Linked DNA regions of Homo sapiens: regions 1, 2 and 3 are each linked to region 4. Evidence: fine-mapped expression QTL. A gene starts in region 4. Each other region holds a variant in brackets. All regions are shown on one strand. Distances are between the middles of the regions. Region 1 overlaps CDYL2 (chromodomain Y like 2). Region 2 overlaps CDYL2 (chromodomain Y like 2). Region 3 overlaps ARLNC1 (androgen receptor regulated long noncoding RNA 1). Region 4 holds the start of CDYL2 (chromodomain Y like 2).

Region 1 (4,866 bases), 67 kb before region 4:
GCATCAGTTTCCTCATCTGTAAAATGAAGTTAATAATAACCACGACATTGTCAAAAATTAATGAGCTAAATGATGCAAAGCACTTAGTTACGTGCCTGGCACTGAATGGGCACTCACTGAATGTGAGTGATTAATACCATCCCCATGTTTGATACTATAAGGCTCCAGTGATCTGGCTAGAGGGAAGGGAGGGAATTCTCAGAGGCAGCCCAGACCCCCAGGGAATGGCCCCCAGGCTCCAACTAGAGCTCTGGTGTCTATTCTAGAAAAGCTCCGGGAAGTTTTGTGCATAGACCTTTTTTTCTCAGGGACCACATAGCAATAATCACTGGACTCTCGACAGAGTACTCTGAAGCCATGGCACTGCTTTCAGACCACCCCTTCCATTTGCATTGCCTCTTCAAAAGAAACCTGCAGTCAGGGAGCTGCAAACAGCTCCTACTTTCAGAGAATGTTTTGGTCCCTAACCAGCCTCCAACACAGCCTGTCCACATCCAAGGCTAGAGAGAGCAGGGCAAGGCAGGCACTTAGGAATCACAGAGACTCGGGTCTGCACTTAGTAGCTCAGGGGCCTCAAGCAAGTAATTACTCCTCACCCCAGGTGGCTCCATCCGCTGGACTAAGGGTCACCTTCCCAGCTTGTCCTCAGTAACCAGCCTTTTATGACATAGGCCAGTGACCTTGAGACTGTGGAACTCCCAGCTGTCACAGCTGGCCACAGGCCCAAGGCCACTGTGTGCAAACCTCCATCTCGTGGGTTGTTCATCAGCTCCTGAACCTAACTGCAAATGGTGACACATCCCCACCATCAATACATTTATAATTCACACTGTTTCAGAGCCCTTTAACGAACATGTTCTCATTTGTCTGTTCTCGTTTCTAACGGCAAAACACGATACGTAACCATCATGCACAGAATACTAACACAAGTGACTCCTTGCGTGAGTTTAGTTTGCAACACTGTCCAACACACAGCATTCAACAGACTAAGCACTTATTTTCAAGTTACTAATTTTTAATTTACGAAGCCCTTATGTGCAACATGACAGTGAGCAAGAGAGGTACAAAGCTGAACCCCCAGTCTCTTGAATATGAGGGGAAGCTGGGAAGATATCAACAGGTAAACATGAACTTGTATACAATGTTTGAAGGAGGAGACAGGACAGCAATGTGGCTGAACACTGGGACTGTGGACTCAGATGTCTGAGTTCAAAAAGTAATCTCAGAAAATAAGGCTGGGTATAGTGGCTCACACCTGTCACCCCAGCACTTTAGGAGGCCAAAGTGGGAGGATCACTTGAGTCTAGGAGTTCAAGATGAGACTGGCCAACATAGTGAGACGTCATCTCTATTTTTTTAATCATCAAAAATTATTTTTAATGATCTATCAACTTACAGCCCAATTAGGGCTTCCTTCAATTATGTACGAACCACTTGACTTGGATAAGGACTTGTTACCCAGTCATTTGAACTGTTCACTTGCACATGGATTTATTATCTAATCATTGTTCACAACCTCAGTATTTCCATTTATCCTCTGTTGGAGCCCTGGAAATTTATATTACATGATGCATCGTATTCAGATTTGGGATGGCTGAGACTCTGCCTTTCTTTTGTTACGTGGGAGAAGGGCTCCTGTGGAAAGAGAAGACAAGGAAAGAGAATTTGCTTCATGCCCCCTTTGCAGGCAGATCAGTTTCAGGACAGCCTGTAGGAAAACTGAGGATCTTGAAATTGAGCCTCACAAATCTATCCATGCCCCCAGACCAAGTCTGCTTGTACCTACCAGTGTGTAAGTACCCCATGTAGACTGCTGTTCCACAGGATGTTGAACTCACAGAGATGTTAACACTTTTGCAGAGGATGGATTTGCTTGAGTTTCCTTTCTGGTATAGTGGCTTTTACTTAATGTGCTGCTCTGTGCTAAGTGCCTTACAGGTAAGGTCTCACCGAGTCCTTGGAACAACCTTAAAAGGGAGGAATCATTATCCCTATTTTGCAGATTCAGGGGTTAAGGGAAGTGGCAGCCAGCAAGTACCAAAGCTGGGGTTCAAACCCAGGGCTGTGAGAATTGCAGAGCGTGAGCTCTTCAGCCACTGTATTAAACTGTACCTTGCTCTAGGTACCGTGAGCATGGCTCTTCATACCAGCTGTTGCCTGGACTGTTGTTGCTGCTGTTGCTGCTGCTGCTAGTGGTGGTGGTTTTCTCTTTGTCTCTTTCTTGGCAAGTTTCTCCAAAGCACTGGTTCTCAAACTTTGGTGTGCATCAGGATCAGGTGAAGGCTTTGTTAAGACACAGATGGCTGGGCTGCACATCCAGAGTTTCCGATTCAGTAGGTCTGGGGTAAGGCTGAGAATCTGCATTTCCAAGTCCCCAGGTCTGGGAACCACACTTTGAGAACCATTTCTCTAAAGAATGCCCAGCCTCATGGGAGAGATTCTTTTTTCTAATGCATTTAGGGACTGGTTGTTGTTGTTGTTGTTGTTTTATACTTTAAGTTCTGGGTTACATGTGCAGAACGTGCAGGTTTGTTACATAGGTATACATGTGCCATGGTGGTTTGCTGCACCCATCAACCTGTCATCTACATTGGGCATTTCTCCTAAAGCTATCCCTCCCCTAGCCCCCAGCCCCCCGACAGGCCCCATGTGTGATGTTCCCCTCCCTGTGTCCATGTGTTCTCACTGTTCAACTCCCACTATGAGTGAGAACATGCAGTGTTTGGTTTTCTGTTTCTGTGTTAGTTTGCTGAGAATGATGGTTTCCAGCTTCATCCATGTCCCTGCAAAGGACATGAACCCATCCTTTTTTATGGCTGCATAGTATTCCATGGTGTATATGTGCCACATTTTCTTTATCCAGTCTATCACTGGTGGGCATTCGGGTTGGTTACAAGTCTTTACTATTTTGAATAGTGCTGCAATAAACATACATGCGCATCTGTCTTTATGGTAGAATGATTTATAATTCCTTGGGTATATACCCAGTAATCCCATGTCT[AT/A]TTTTTTTTTAAAAAAAGGAATTTTAGGAAACAAAAAGAAATGAGTACTAATGCTACATGCTACAACTAGGAGAATTAGAAAATATTATGCTAAGTGAAAAAAGCCAGACACAAGAGACTATACATTGTGCCAGTCTATTCATATGAAATTCCAGAATAGGCAAATCCATAGGGATAGAAAGCAGATTTGCAGTTGCCAGGGCTAAGGTGGGGACACAAGAATAGGCGGGTGATAACTAAAGGGTATACCGTTTCTTTTTCAGGTGATAAAAATATGCTACAATTAACTGTGGTGATGTTGCACAACTCTGTAAATACACTAAAAATCACTGACTTGTACACTTTCAATTGGTGAGTCATATGGTATGTGAACATATCTCAGTTAAGCTATTTTTTAAAGGTAACTTTGGGCAAATTATTTAACTTCGCCAAGCTTCAGTTTCCTCATCTATAAAATGGAGATGATGATAGTGGCAAATTTCTAATTCTTGTGAAAATTCATAGGAACAACTTTGTAAAAAAAGCGCTACATGCTTTGACCACTATTGTCTTCAGCTGTAAAAGATCAGAGGAGTATTTCACAAGGTGAAAAAGGTGGAAGCAACCCGATTTTCCATCAATGGATGAATGGATAAACAAAACGTGGTATACACACACAATGGAGTATAGTCAGCCTTTAAAGGGAAGTAAATTCTGACATATACTTCAATATGGATGAACGCTGAGGACGTCACGCTGAATGAAATAAGCCAGTCATGAAAAGACTGTATGATTCCACTTATCTGAGGTCCCTAGAGTATTTTATTTCATAGAGACAGAAAGTGGAATCGTGGTTACCAAGGACTGGGGGAGAAGGGGAGAATGTGGGATTAGTGTTTAATGGGGACAGAGATTCAGTTTTGCAAGATGAAAAGAGTTCTGTGGGTGGACAGTGGTGATTACTGCACATCAATGTAAATGTACTTAATACCTCGGAAATGCACACTTAAAAATGGTTAAGATGGTAAATTTTATGTTATATGTATTTTATCACAATCTAAAAAAGAATAGAATGGGGAGATGCAAGAGCTAAAGAAAGAAATGTCAGTGGGAAGGAGGGAGAAATTTGGAGGTGTCATAGGACAAAAGATCAGGAGCTAAGCCCCAGCGGGGCAGATTCACACAGCAGCCGGGCACCAGCAGTCCCAGGATAGCACCCAGCACACCAGAGAGACCCTAGCACTGCCTCCCAGGAGTGTGCTGGCATCCTGCTCTGCCATCCACACCGCCACCCACACCAGCCCATGGAACAAGACGCACCAGCTCAGAGCTCAGGTGTGGGAGGTGGGAGCCAGAATGAGTCATAGAAGCGCTGCTCTCAGAGAGACAGAGAGGTCACTGCCTTACTCCCTGCCAATCAGGGAAACTCCCCAAAAACAGAAGCCTCACACTGGGGACCTGCTGTCCACGGCAGGCCAATTACAGCCCAATTACCTGAAATGCTGATCTGGGCTATACCAACAAAGCAGCCCAAGTCTGTGGAGCACAAAGCTGAGTCACGTACATTGATGCCCAGGATGAAACGACTTGGGGGCAATGTCACTGTCTTTGCTAGGGTCTTCCCCATGTGGCTGTGGAGGGTGGTGGGTGCCAGAGGAGGGGACGGGTGCAGAGAGAAATTACAGAAGACAGAAAAGCTACTTACAGGTCTCTAACTCAGAAAAAGAGGCTGACTAAATCGGGCAGGATTGACAACCACATGGACAAGTTTGTCAGTTCAGTGTTCCTTGCTAACCTTGCTCTGTGGAATGAGCACGTCCAGGAAGATGCACCAAAAACCAGAGTGGATGAAACTTGCCACTTGTTTTCCCCACTAAAACTTCCA
Region 2 (4,866 bases), 100 kb before region 4:
TAGAAAGGAGGTTCCTCAAAAAAACTAAAAATTTAATATCATATGATTCAATAACCCACTACTGGGTATATATCCAAAGGAAGGAAAATCAGTATGTCTAAGATATACCTGTACTCTCATGTTTACTGCAGCACTATTCATAATAGTCAAGATATAGAACCAACCTAAGTGTCCATCAACAGATGAATGGATAAAGAAAATATGATATACATATTTATATACAATGCAATACTATTTAGCCATAAAAAAGTATGAGATTCTATCACTTGTGGCAACATGCACGAGCCTGCTGGACATTGTGTTAAGTGAAATAAGCCAGGCATAGAAATACAAATACCACTAGTACTCACTCATACGTGGAAGCTAAAAAAGTTGATCTCATAGAAGTAGAGAGTAGAACAGTAGTTACTAGAGGCTGTGAAGAATAGCACGAACAGAGGATAGGGAGAGGTTAGTTAATAAATACAAAATCACAGCTAAACAGAAGGATTAAGTTTTAATGTTCTACAGCACTGTAAGGTGAATATAGTTAACAAAATTTTATTGTGTATTTTCAAATAACTAGAAAAGAGGATTTTTACTATTCTCAACACAAAGAAATGACAAATGTTTGAAGGGATGGATATGCTAATTACCCTGATTTGATCATTACACATTATCTATATGTATTGAAATATACTATACTCCATAAATATGTATAATTATTATGTGTCAAAAACTTTTCTTAAAAGGTTGAAAGGTATGTGGAAAAGGTAAATAATTAGAATGACCAAAACAATTTTTTTTTTTTTTTTTGAGACGGAGTCTCGCTCTGTCGCCCAGGCCGGAGTGCAGTGGCGCGATCTCCGCTCACCGCAAGCCCCGCCTCCCTGATTCACACCACTCTCCTGCCTCAGCCTCCCGAGTAGCTGGGACTACAGGTGCCTGCAACCACGCCTGGCTGATTTTTTAGTAGAGACGGGGTTTCACCATGTTAGCCAGGATGGTCTCGATCTCCTGACCTCATGATCCGCCCGCCTCGGCCTCCCAAAGTGCTGGGATTACAGGCGTGAGCCACTGCGGCCAGCCAAAACAATTTTTAAAAAGAGCAAAGTTGGAGAAATCACAGTGCCTCTGCAAAATTCCAGATAAATTAGAAAGTTAAACAAAAATCTAAGAACATATCAAACACAAAAAATGCGTTTTAAGACTTACAGTGGAGAAGGTCACTGAAACAAAAATCTAATGGCCATGAAGAGTGCTAAATTTCACTAAACTATAATTAAAATTTTTCCTTTCATAAAAGACATCAAAAATAAAATTAAATGACAATGGACTGAGAAAATATTCACATTTGCAACAAAAGAGTAACATCCAGAATATGTAAGGAACTTCAAAGTCGATTAAGAAAAAGAAGTTAAAAATGGGCAAAGAAGCAGAATAAGAAATACAAATTCAAATAAATAAAAATGGCTATCAACATATTAGAAAGAGGGTTAAGCTCATCACTAATCAGGGAAATGAAAATTAAAACAGTGAGAAAGATCAGCAAAATTTTAAAAGGTTGCTAATACCCTATGTTGGCAAGGATGTGGGCATACGAATAGCTATATATGTTCTTAGCATATGTAAATGGATATACCCTTTAGGGAAGGTAATTTAACAGATATCTATGCAAATTAAAATGTACAACCTTCTCTCCTCCTCCTCCCACACATAGTACATAGGTTCACATCATGCTAGCTTTCTCTCGCCAGTAGGCAGGAAACAGAAGAAATGTATCACCTCTGAACAGAAAGGTTTAATTTCCTATTTGTTGTCTTCCCTGCCACAGCAACAGAGCAGGCCATGAGTTGTAACGCCGTGCAGCTAAGAAACAGTTAAGCCTTCAGCAGCAGCCTGGGTCTCTGAGGGACTCGGCGGGCAGAAGATCCCACTAAACACTGTTGGACAGGTAGCATGAGTGAGAAATAAACCCCTGCAGTCTTAAGCCACTGGGAAAAAAATCTGCACAAAC[C/T]CTTGAACCAGCCATTTGACTTTTGAGTATCCATCCGCATACAACCAATTCTAAAGGGAAAAAAGCAATAAACAGGGACTCTATCAAAGTAGAACCTCTACATAGATCAAGACAGAGCTATATGTCTTAATGTACAGTATGATCCCATTTATGTCAAAATATGCATATGCAAATATATAAAGGTCTGGAATAATTCACTGTTAATCTTCTATGGTTATTGCCTAATTATTAACAATGGTTTTCTCTAAGGCAGGGAGTGGATGCAGGGGAAGAGGCCACAAAGAAGGTCTTTCATTTCTATTCAAATTCTTCTGTAAAGCTTTTTTTCAATGAACATTATTTACATAGTATCTATTCCATTTAAAAATCAATAAAAATATTTTTTAAATTAATTTGATTTCTGTTTTTAAAAATGACCAACTGGAACATATCATGGGGAAAAATGAGCACATTCCAAAAAACAACCAAAAAAACACCGAATTGCAAACGTTAACTTTCACAAGAAATATTGGAAAACTACAAGAAGATAAACAACAAAATTCTACTGAGATGTTTTAAAGGGCTGAAATGAATGGAGCTGTATGTACCATGTTTCTGGATGGGAAGTCTTCACATATTAAAAGTTGGTTTGCAACAAACTGATCGATAAATGTAACGCAGTTTACAATCAAAGTCCCAATGAGTTCATTTTCAGAACTTTACAAAATGGTTCTCAAGTACCTTTGGGAGAATTAAATAAAAATAGCCAAGAGATTTTTGAAAAAGAAGAATAATGAGAAGGCACTTCTACAATAACATACTCAAGTAGAATATAAAGCCACTATACTTGTGAGTGTAGCATTAGGACAGGAAAAATAAATCAACTGAGCAAGAAAGCAAGCCTGAAAACATCCCTTCATATATTAGGAGATAAAATCGGAAACAAAGTAGCATCAAATATCAGTGCCAAATAGCAGAATTATTGCATAAGTGGGATTGGGGCAATTATACAGGAATGTGGAGTGAGAAACAAACCCCCACTTCACAGTAGAGGAATCAGAGTTTGGGGGTTTTCTGAAAATTAATTCCAAGAGGTTCCAAGAGTCAGAAGGCCTAAAACACACACACACACACACACACACACACACACACAAAACTATAAAAACTTAGAAGAAAACAAGACAGAGGTAGACAGCCATCTCATTTTTCATTGAAAGACATCCCATGTTCAAAATAATATTTTGCTCAGAAAAGCACGTTCTGCACATGTATCCCATTTTTTAGAAGAAATCAAGAAAAAAAGTGTATAAAATAGAAAAAAATTAAGTGGCATGAAGTAAAATAGTAAAAATAATCAAGAAATATATAAAGATCTCAGGAATATCATTAGGAAAAGCAGACAGGTCTGGACATGAGGGCTCACGTCTATAATTCAGCACTCTGGGAGACCAAAGCAGGAGGATTGTTTGAGGCCAGGAGTTTCAGACCATCCTGCGCAACAGAGTGACAACCCATCTCTACAAAAAATTTAAAAATTAGCTGGGTGTGGTGGCTCATGTCTGTACTCCCAGCTACTCGGGAGGCTGAGGCTGGAAGATCGCTTGAGCCCAGGAAGGCAAGGTTGCAGTGGGCTATGATCGTACCACTGCATTCCAGCCTGGGTGACAGAGTAAGACCCTGTGGACAGGTAAGGCCACAATATTAGGAGGCTAGCCTGGCCTCCTGGAGGATGAGTAGACACAAAATGCCGCAGCCAACAGCCAGCACTGCACGCCAGAAATGTGGGTGAGGCCATCTTGGACTTTCCATCCCAGCTGCATGAGTGAGCCCAGATGAAATCAACAGAGCTCACCCACAGAAGCCTAAGAAATAATCAGTTGTTATTGCTTTAAGCCACTAAGTCCATAACTGATATAACTTGACATAAAAGTTTATTAGAGTATTAGCTCAATCATGTGGAATATATATACACACATGAATCTAGGAAAAAAAGATAAGAAGGAAATGTTAATAAAAATAGGAAACCCCATTAACAGAATTATCTCAACCATGTAGAATATGCACATACACACACACCTGGGCAAAAAGAGAGGTGGAGATGTTAACAAGAATGTTATCTCCAGGGAGCAAGATTAGTGTTAATTATCTTCTTTATACTCTTTTGTATTTACAAAGTTTCCTTTCATGAACAGATAAATATATGTGAATAGCATTATATTTTAAAGGTTGATTTACCTCCACAACTAGACTGTGGCCTCCTTGATTGTAGAGGCTCTTTTTTTCGACTGTGAACCCCACGGCTTGTCACATGGTAGAGGTACAGTCAATGCTAGATGAATGAATGAACACAGAAAGCCTCAGGCTTATCCCCAGATTCAGGATTGGACTAGAGCTACCAACCTCGTCACTGGTCCCTGGACTTTCTCTAATGTGCACTAGACCAAAGCTGGTGCCCATGAGTCAATGCCCACCCAGCCACTCTGCCCTTACAGCAGGTATCCCCATCACCCTGTGGTGGCTCAGGCCACAGGGCCTCCCTGTGGGGTGCTCTAGCAACCAATCTGGTTACCATGCATCACACTCTGGCTCAAGGAGAGGGACAAGTGACCCAGCCCCTCCCAGAACCGCACCTGGTGGTCAGGGGCTTCTCCACGGCTATTCCTGGGTACAGGCTCCCCTAAGTCCTGCTGGTTACCAGGACCCCTACTGCAGGGTCCTGCCCTCTTGACCTCTGATTCCAGACCACACCTGGCCTTGCCTGAGCTTGGATGACAAGCCTCACCTGCGGAGCCACGTTAGCATCAAACTTTGCACCCAGGTAAGCAGAGCAGCCACCTCCCTTCTCTTGCCCAGCTGCGCAGGGTGGGTGCGCCCATCACCACACTGCATAC
Region 3 (4,866 bases), 27 kb after region 4:
ATTGTCTCCAAATACTTCAAGCTCACTTTAAAAACATCTTTATGGAGACTTCGCTTCCTTTCTGCAAATTTCTAGTTGCCTGTTTTACATGTCAGGAATGGCTGAGTGATGCTCTGGCTCTCTCACCTGAATTTTGTCTTGCATCTCTGTTCACTTTGCCTGTTTCATTGTCTTGCCATCTCATTCTTTCTAATGGAGAAGTAAAGGAGGGACTCTGTTCCTCCCCGTACCAGGAGGGTATTGATGTTTGAGGTCCAAACTGAAAACCCATCACCTCCTTCCCACTGCTATAGCAGCGTTAGCCCTGGGGTTCATTATCTAGCCAGTTCACACCTTCTAAAGTGGGGCTCTGAAAATGTCTTACTTCCCTCACAGACAAAGCAATTCTCAAGCCTCCTGAGATCACCCACCAACCAGAGCAACTGCTGTCACTTGGAGGTGCAGCTGAATTCTTCTAATTGTGACACAAACTCTTGAAACTGTAAATGCTGAAAGATTAAATGAGGTTATAACACTCAGAAGGTTTTACAAGTAAAAGTAAGTCAAATCAATAGGTCTTTATTTCATATCTGTAATGGTTTAGCTCTGCGGGAAGTGTTAGCAGCTATATGAATTAGGAAGAATTTAGAAGACAATCCCTAAACACATGAAATGTCCAAGTAAGAAGATAACATATTTATCCAAATATTTAAAGTGAAATGCTCCAGATATGGGAAGCTTACAGTTTTCAAGCAAAGCTTTTTAGAAAAAATTATGGAACTATTTTAAAGAGAGCTAAACATTTCTTTGCCTTAGGCAGAATATACAGAACACAGATTCACCTTTTCTGTACATCTCTAGATGATCACGAATGTCAAATATCACACTACACTGTGATATGGGGATTCCCCTTGGGGGTTTTCATGTGTATAGGGTGCCTGCAGCTACACTAAACATCTTAAAGCTACCACAATGTTCACTTCATATTTTTGCTTTTTATAGGCTTTCTTGGTCTCCTCCTATGTTCCCATCATTTTCTTGCTTTGAATCTGTAAGAATCGAGTTGAATCTTCTCCATTTTAAATTTTCCATAGGCTGAGAAACTGTTTAGCCAAGTTTGGATAAAATTGTATCCAAAGTAAGAGTATACAAGCTATGGGCAAGTCCAAAATCAAGCTGTTCACAGGACCATGTTCTCTCTAAAGGTTCTAGGAGAGAATCCCTCATTTCCTTCCAGCTTCTGGGTGGCTGCTGGCATTCCTGGGCCGGTGGCTGCATCCCTCCAATCTCTGCCTCCATCTTCACATGACCTTCTTCCTTGTGTTTCTATGGGTTCTTTCCTGTTTTTTATGAAGACATTTTCATTGGATTTAGATCCCATCCTAATCCAGTATGATCTCATCTTCAGTTTTACCTAACTTATATCCGCAAAGGCACTATTTCCAGATGAAATTACGTGCTGAAGTTCTAGATGGATATAACCTTGGGGGCCATGAAGAACTCTTCCACTTACTGCAGAGATCCATCACCCTAAATAGTTAAGAACAAGAGAAATGTAGAATAAAATCTCAAGCTCCCAGGATGACGTTCCGGGGTCTTCCTATTCCACCCTCAACCCTTATTTTTGACCTCCTGTCCTGCAGCCACACTCCGGCCCACACGCTGTTCCTGGCTCCCAAACCGCTGCACTGGGCTGCCTCAACACTGTCTTTATAAAGTTGTCATTCACTGAAACTTCCTTCATTCCTTGAGTGTGCTGCCCCACGTAGTTGCCACATATGAGACAGGTACCATCATTACTTCCATTTTACACATGAGGGAGGTGAGGGTTACAGAACATAAAGAATTTCCCAATATCACACAGCTAGCAATAAGTGGAACTTGAGTTCAAAAACAGATTTGGCTGGGTTCAGAGCTTGTGCTCTTGACTATGAAGAATAACCTTAGCATGTTCCTATAACAGAAAAGACAGTGGAGTTCCCGAAGCAAGACAAAAAGTGGTAGGAGACAGAAAGCTAAGAAGACCAGCACCTGATTAGGTGGGGCCTCATATGCATGGAAAGGTGAAAAGGAATTCTGAGTGTGGTGGGAATCCACCAAGGACAATGAGGATGATGAGAGCTTAGAAAGGGCTATTACATTTGCTTGTTGTAAAGAGAAGTTTCACTTAGTCATTCATTCATTCAATTATTCACTTATTACATGAATATTTCTTGAGAACCTAGTGTGTGCAGGGTACAGTTGTACATGGGAAGGATACGATGGTGAGCATATCGGATGCAATCCTGGTCATTCTTGAGCTTATATTCTAGTAGAGGGAGAAAGATAATAAGCAAGTGATACAGTTTGGGTATTTGTCCTTGCAAATCTCACGTTGAAATCTGATCCTCAGTATTGGAGGTGAGGCCTAGTGGAGGTTTTTGGACCATGGGGGCAGATCATGCATGAATGTCTTGGTGCCATACCTATGAGTGAGTTCTTACTCTATTAGTTCAGGCAAGATCTGGGTACTAAGAAAAAGCCTAGCACCTCCTCCTCTCTGTTCTTTCCTGTCGCCATGTGATGCAGCTCTCCTTCGCCTTCCGCCATAACTGGAAGCTCCCTGAGGCCCTCACCAGAAGCAAATGCTGGCCATGCTTCACGTACAGCCTGCAGAACCATGAGCCAAATAAACTTCTTTTCTTTATAAATTACCCAACCTCAGGTGTTCCTTTATAGCAACACAACGGACTAAGACACTAAGTAAGCCATTAAACAAGCCAATACAGGTAGTGATATGCACCTTTTTTTTTTTTTTTTTTTTTGAGACGGAGTCTCACTCTGTCACCAGACTGGAGTGCAGTGGCATGATCTCTGCTCACTGCAACCTCTGCCTCCCGGCTCCAAGCGATTCTCATGCCTCAGCCTCCCGAGTAGCTGGGATTACAGGCACGCATCACCGTACCCAGGTAATTTTTTTGTATTTTTAGTAGAGACAGGGTTTTACCATGTTGGCCAGGATGGTCTTTATCTCCTAACCTCGTGAT[A/C]CACCCCCTCAGCCTCCCAAAGTGCTGGGATTATAGGCATGAGCCACCGCACCCAGATGATATGCACTATTTTAAGAAAAAAAAAACCTACTATAGAATGGCAGGGAAGAGGGGGAGCAAAACTCCAAACTGTCCAAAGAAGAAACATTTGAACTAAGATGGAGGCAATGAAGAGGAACCAGCTGAGTGATGGTCTAGGGGCAAGATCTAGGGGAAAGTCAAGAGAAAGAGACTGAAGAGAAAGGGTTAGGGCTGATTTAGTGAGCAAAGATCCAGGAGGGGGAGAAGTTTACAGTACCCTGAGAACAGCAATAATGCACAAACATTACTATTCCAACAGCTGCATTGAAACACCCTTGGTAGGATTGGGAAAAAGATGGATTATTGCCATTTGGACACTCCAGGACTGTCCATTAATACTCCTGACTAATGGAAGATGATAAAGATTGGGCAAGAAAAATGACTGCAGCAAACGCCTTGGCATCTTCAACTTGTCACCTTTAGCAAGAGGCCTCTTCAACAGTTCTTGGACTGTGTTTGGCAGCCAGGCACTCTCAGAACGGCAAGGAGACACAGCTAACATGATCTTTGCAATGCAACAAAACAAGCGATCTTGAGGCGACAGAGTCCAAAAGATGACAGAAAATTCATCCAACTCCTGAAGCATGTGATGCCACCAGAAAGCCTTGGCAACAGCCCTTGCAACCCCAGGCTACACCACCTCAGTCAAAGCCAAGTCCTAACATATCTCCCTTCTTCTCCTGCAGCCAAGCTGGGCAAGAAGAGATTAGACTCCAGCCCCTTGCAAAAGCTTCAAGCTGCATGTGTCACCAAAAGACCTTGAGAAAGTCACAGGAAAGTGTCTAAAATCTACATAGAAAACATTTGCCCAAGGAGACTTGTGTGACAAGGCAGGGCCCACTTTGCAGAGCTGGCAGATGTCACCATTGCTTGAGAGTTCTTCTCCTTGACTTAGTTCTGTAAACCAGATGCCCCCCAACACGCTCTAGTTTGATGACGGCATATTTTCTTTTATTCTCCAAATAAAATGTGTCGAGCTCCCATCTCATGTACTAGGAGAGGTCCTGTGACCTTTCCAGTGCCTCAGAGAGTGAGAATGGGAAAGAGGAGTGGATGAAGTAGGGCTTACCCTCCTGTGGGTCACCTCTCTTCCCTGCTGCTTCTGAACCCCACTCAGCCTCCTTCCCTCTTCCCCAGCAACTATCCCAAAGCTGTTACATCGTGTGGCAAACGTTTACTGAGGCTTTTAGGGATAATATAAGTGGTTTCTTTACAACCATTCCTTCACAGCCAGAACGCACGTAATTTAAAACTGTGTCATTTTCACACACGTCCCATAATGTCTCCTTCATGGGGAGCTTCTCATGGCCTTGGTCTCTCCCCAGAGGCTGCCTATGGCCATATTTCTGGGATCCAATTCTCACACACTGGGCCCCTCATTCTTGGGCTTCCCACATTCAGTTACCTCATTCTTGGGCTGCCCACAAACAGTCAAAATCCTTATTTTCTAAGCTGAAGCAGTTGAGCTCTCTCACTTACCCTTACAAATCTAGGTTTTGCCTAGAAGTAGTCAAAAAAGCAAGACAGAGACATCTTCATCAACCACAAAGTCTCATCAAAGTATTTTACTCCATCAAAGAGCCATTCACTTCTGATAGCCATGCTCTTCCTCTCTTAAAAGGCAGATTCTCTTTGTTTTTTTTTTTTTAACTAAATACAACGTTTTCTTCCTACCACACTGCCTCATGATCCTATTAAAAGATATCAAGATGAGGACCAGCCATGAATTCACTTCCCTCCGCAGTCCACTAACATGTTGCTTTAGTGAAAATAAACAAAA
Region 4 (4,866 bases):
TCAAACCTTCTATTTTACTGTGCTTCAATTTTCAATTTCAGAAATTGTTCCACCATCTTGAAACAGACCAAGGCGCTTGGGTGATCCATTGGCCACATTTGCCGAAGTTCTTCACAAGATCTCTATCCAACTTCACCTTGTCTCTTAGCATAGAGATGAGGACGGCCACAGGGTAGTGAAGAGGGCAACATACACCATTCTTTCAAGGAGCTCTAAGGTCTCCCACCCACCCCACCTGAACCTGCTGGCCGGCAGTCCAGGCCTGGGCCTCACCAACTCCAGAATCATTCACAAGAACATGGTCACACAGGAGACCTGTGCTCCTTTCTCCATTCTTCTTCTCTAACGCCAGTCAGCAAACCCACCACCTGAAAAAGCTTCAACTGCCCACGAGGGCCTAGAGGAAAGAGCTTCTTAGGAATCACCCCCTGCAGTCTGTCGTGGGTGGATCACCCTACAATGTCTTATGCAAAAGGCTAATTCTACCCCTTCTGGGTGCTTATCTCAATGGAGCCCCAAAGCCTTAAGAACCAGATGGCGTTAACCAATTTATGTTCCGGGAAGTGCAGGTCCAGGCTAACCCATGCGGCTGGTTTCACGGAGGCCCAGAAGGCCCTCTGGTTGAAGATGGCTGGTCTCTTAACTTCTTTATCCTGAACCTGGTCTTGGCGGCCAACACCTCTGAGGCCATTCCCTCTGGGGAGTGGTGGCTGGCTGTTCCTTGTGTTGTCCACTTGTGGAAAACCCAAAGCAGTAACAGTTGTGTTCCTAAGCCCTTGCTCCCCAAAGACCATGGGTGTTCCTCCATTGTTTGAAAGATGCCAGACTAATGTCTTCCTTCGCCACTTTTGGGAAGACATGAGAGTATCCAACGCTGGCCACTACTCATTAGGACCTGGAGCCAGGTATCCACTGAGGGTGACGAGAGTACTGGGCGCTGGGCTGGCATCTGTGTCCTATGTCCCCAACACCTCAGACTTCCACGTTCTCCTCCCACCCAGGGCCCTCCGCAGCGCCCCCTTTCGCCCCCAGGGAGCACGACACCCGCAAGGGCCACCCCCACGCCCGAGCCCGGAGGGCGTCCGAGCTGGTGCGGGGGCAGCAGGTGGGGGGTGAGGGAGGTGGCCCGGGGACCCCGGGGAGCGGTTTGGCGGTTGTCCCCCCGAACCCCCACCCAGCCTCCCCCTTCGCAGCCCCCCGGGACCCCGCCTCGCCCCGGCCAGGCTCCGCTCCGATCGCCCGCCCCCCTCCTCCCCCGCGCCCCCGGCCCAGCCGGGCCGCGCAACCCCCGCCCCACACCCCCGCCGGCCGCGGCGCGCCCCCCCGCATTCCCAGCACGTCCGGCGCCGACTTTTACCTGTACTTTCTGTACTCGAGGCGGCTCGTCGGGCGAGAAACACCTCCCCGGGACCGCTACCTCCCCCGCCCCGGCTCCGCCCGGCTTCCTCCTTCCCCTCCAAGGCCGCAAAGTAGATGGAGTAAGAGAGTGTGTGTGCGAGAGAAAGAGAAAGAGGGAGCGGGCGCGGGCGCCGCGGGAGGCGGCGGGCGGCGGGCGGCGGGCGGGAGGCGCGCCCGGCCCCCGCCACCCTCCGGCCGCCGCCGCCGCCGCCGCGGGCTCGGCAACTCCGGATTGCGCCCGGCCCCGGCCCCGGCCCGGTCCCCGCCGCCCGCCGCCGCCGCCCGCCGCCGCCCGCTGACTGGGGCCGGCCCGCGCCCCCGCGTCCCCGTACCTCGTAAAGGTCCCCAGAAGCCATGCCAGGCTGCGGAACTTGGCTCGCCGGTGTGCGCGTCTGCTCGCTCGCGCCCTCCGTGCGTGTGCGCGCGGGGTCCGGTGTGCGCGTGTGTGTGCGCGCGTGTGTGTGCGAGTGTGTGTGGTGTGTTGAGTAAACTGTGTTTTTGCAGAATGACAGGCTTGGGGGCTGCCTATGCGCAGAATCAGAGCGGGCGGCGGCGGGGCTGGCGTAACCGGCAGCAGCGGCGGCGGCGGCGGCGGCGGCACGAGCGCGGGCAGCAGCGACGGCCGCGCAGCGCGCCCGGGAGGCACGGACGCGGCCCGAGCGCCGCGGCCCCCGCGACCCGGCGACCCGGCGGCGGTGGCTGCAGCCGGCAACGGCTCGCCCCGGCGCCGCCTGCAGGAAGCCGCCCGGCGCCCGCCGCCGGCCCGGACGCTGCTGCCACTGGGCGAGTCCCCGCCCCCCGGGAGCCCGGCCCGGCCCCCGGGGCGGGGAGGCGGGGGCTGCTGCCCGGCCGCGCCCCGGGGGACCGGTCCCAGAGTCGACTAGCGCTCGGGCCCGCCCCGCCACCCCGGGCCGGCTTCGGGAGCAGCTGGCGGGGCCCCCGGGGGGCGGCGGGCCAGGTGCCCGCCGGGTGCGCCCGATCTGGGGCCGCGAAGGGGCGGCCGGGGAGCCAGGTAGAGGGCTGCGGCTGCAGACCTCAGGGAAGGGGCCCCAGCCGAGCCCCGCCGGCCCGGGGTCCCCACCTACCTCCTCCACCCTCGAGGGGAGTGGACGCCGCCTGGGAGACCTGGCCCCTCGGGGCTGCGCGGCCCCTCCCTCCAGGCTGGGTTGTAAGATGTGGAGGCCACAGGGAGGAAGGATGAAATGGCCCATCCAGAGGCACCATGGGGATCCAGGACAGGCGTGGCCACCCCATAAACCCTGGAAAGTCTTTAGAGCCAGGGGTGGCCTTCCCTCAACAACCCCTCTCCCCGAATTTATTCACTCATCCCTTACTCAAACATTTACCAAAGTCAACCCAAGTGCACAGTGTCCCTGGACAGGCAAAACTGGGACCCTGCCCAGAGACAGTTTGAATCCGCAAGTGAGGAGTGTAATGGAGCACTCAGTTGTTCTAAAAGGTCATCCTGCGTGTGACAGGCTGCGGAGCTGGAGGAGCTAGAGAAGCTCTCCAAAACCCAAATCCGTTCCTAAGCCATCTCTCATGGATAAATGGTCACCCCTCTGCTTAAAGGGTTCTCCTTATAAATATTTATGTATATAGTTACTTCAGAACCTGCAAGGTCAGACTTCTGAAATTGGAGGGAAGATCTTCATCCCCACCCATGAAATGCCTGCCTGGCTCCAGATGTGATGTATCATTAACTCACATGCTCCCTGGATCATTTTCTACTTGGGAGGCTGTGGGCAGGTCACCGAACCCTGATGGGAGATGGTGATAGTCACCTAAGTGATTTAAATAGAATTAAGGAGAGGATCTACGTATACATGAAGTGACCTGTCCATCCCAGCAGAACTCAATAAAGGTGATTTGTATCTGAGTCTCAACCTGGACTGCCCTCATGGAGAGTGAGATGGCAGAGGGGCTCGATAAATTGTTTAATCCTGAGGTTGTCAAACTTTGAAAAGTCACCAAATTTTTTAATCCAAAAAAAAAAAAAAAAAAAAAAAACTCCATGGAACCTGAAGCATGTCTGGCTCATTCCAGGACACATGGATTTGCATTTGCTGTTCCCCCTGCCTAGAATGTCCTTCCACATTGAATCCATCTGGAACATTCTTGTTCTTCGTATAGGGGCTTGTTTATCTTTGTATCGCAAGCATCTTCCACTGTTCCTGAGAGAGAGTAGGTACACAGTGATTGTTTTTCGAACTATGCCAATATAACAAATTTTATACCAATTTCTAGTTAAAATCCCGCATGAAGATAAGGAAAAAATGGTGAGGATAAGGAATTAATAAATCAGAAAGCATATTTGGCTTAGAAACTGTTGAAATTGTTATAGAACTTCTCTCTTCATATTGATATTTTCCCGGTGGTCATGGTTTTAAATAATAACAGTAATAATAAGCAGTTCTCTATCTGTAGGTAGCTAAACAAATTTTAATGAGTCTTAATTTGTACTCACGAATAAATGCACCACCATAGCATGAGGATGTAATTTGGAAGAAGACAAGAAGGAAACTGGGCTTGGAAATAATATACTAAGCCAAATTTGAATATATAATCAGTAGTTTTACAAAAACACCAAAAGCTTGACTTGTACTGGCCAAGTACTCCCTGAGAATGTGAGTGCAGTTTGAAAAACCCTAGTCTAGACAACAGTTGTTTACAGAGTTCACAGAAGAGGATACTTAGTGTGGATGACCATGCTCAGGAAATGTTTTAGGACTGAAATGGATCTTGAAGACTCATAGAAAAGGAAGGACAGTGTTTTCCGTGAGGAGAAGAAGTCAGAGTAGATGGTAAGCAATTCTGCTATGGGAAGGGTATGAGAAGATTGGAGGACTGGTTTATGGAGGTCACAGGACCCTGGATGGTGAATGTGGGTCAGTTCGGAGATAGTCTTGAAAGCCAAGCTAAGAAGTTTGCTATTTAGTAGGTCAACAGTGGAGAAACTGATGAAGACTTTTGAATCAATCAAAAGCATGTGACTATCAAAAGTGCACTGTAGAAAACAAATTCTAGAAGAAATATGGGAAATCAACTGCAGGGTTTGAGGTTAGGGGCAGGGAGACCAATTGCAATGGTCCCTGGTGTTAGCAGTGGAAATGAAGAAGAAAAATGGGATTTGCGAGATGTTCAGAAGGAAGAACCAGGCTAACTTTCATTATGGTTACTCCACCTACTTCCATGAAGCATTCGATTCAGATCAACAGGACTTGATGACTAACAGGATGTGTGTGCATTGAGGACTTGGGGAGGGGCCGCGACTAAGGAAAGGATACAGAGATGACTAAGGTTTTAAACTGAGTGACTGAGCTACCCATCCGTCATAACACAATTTTATTTTGAGCTTACCCCCAGACCATGGCTAGCTTCCAGAAAAGGCAGGTGCTTCCTGAGGGATGAAGGGGGGAAGGGTCTTCACCCACTGTAGGAAGTTCAGCCCAACCAATTAACAGTGAG

Evidence for each region. PIP is the estimated chance that this variant, and not a neighbour inherited with it, causes the effect.
Region 1: its variant is the best candidate, but not a certain one, in a credible set for the expression of CDYL2 in whole blood (TOPMed, PIP 0.64).
Region 2: its variant is the best candidate, but not a certain one, in a credible set for the expression of CDYL2 in whole blood (TOPMed, PIP 0.55).
Region 3: its variant is the best candidate, but not a certain one, in a credible set for the expression of CDYL2 in neutrophils (BLUEPRINT, PIP 0.52).

Annotation. Positions count from the first base shown.
Region 1 is chr16:80,735,396-80,740,261 of GRCh38, forward strand. All of the region lies in intron 1 of CDYL2 (chromodomain Y like 2), which reads right to left. Among named protein-coding and RNA genes, the nearest start is that of CDYL2, 67 kb to the right of the region's middle. RefSeq lists a silencer at 4,272-4,431. The variant AT/A (reference allele first, on the strand shown) is at 3,002.
Region 2 is chr16:80,699,091-80,703,956 of GRCh38, forward strand. The region is part of intron 1 of CDYL2 (chromodomain Y like 2); the gene reads right to left. Among named protein-coding and RNA genes, the nearest start is that of CDYL2, 100 kb to the right of the region's middle. The variant C/T (reference allele first, on the strand shown) is at 1,997.
Region 3 is chr16:80,829,249-80,834,114 of GRCh38, forward strand. ARLNC1 (androgen receptor regulated long noncoding RNA 1) reads right to left here. Exons shown (of 3, transcript NR_131948.1): 3 at 1-1,509. Among named protein-coding and RNA genes, the nearest start is that of CDYL2, 27 kb to the left of the region's middle. The variant A/C (reference allele first, on the strand shown) is at 3,006.
Region 4 is chr16:80,802,420-80,807,285 of GRCh38, forward strand. CDYL2 (chromodomain Y like 2) reads right to left here and starts at 2,179. Exons shown (of 7, transcript NM_152342.4): 1 at 1,731-2,179. The coding sequence starts at 1,754. RefSeq lists silencers at 960-1,109, 1,390-1,459, 2,070-2,379, 2,400-2,459.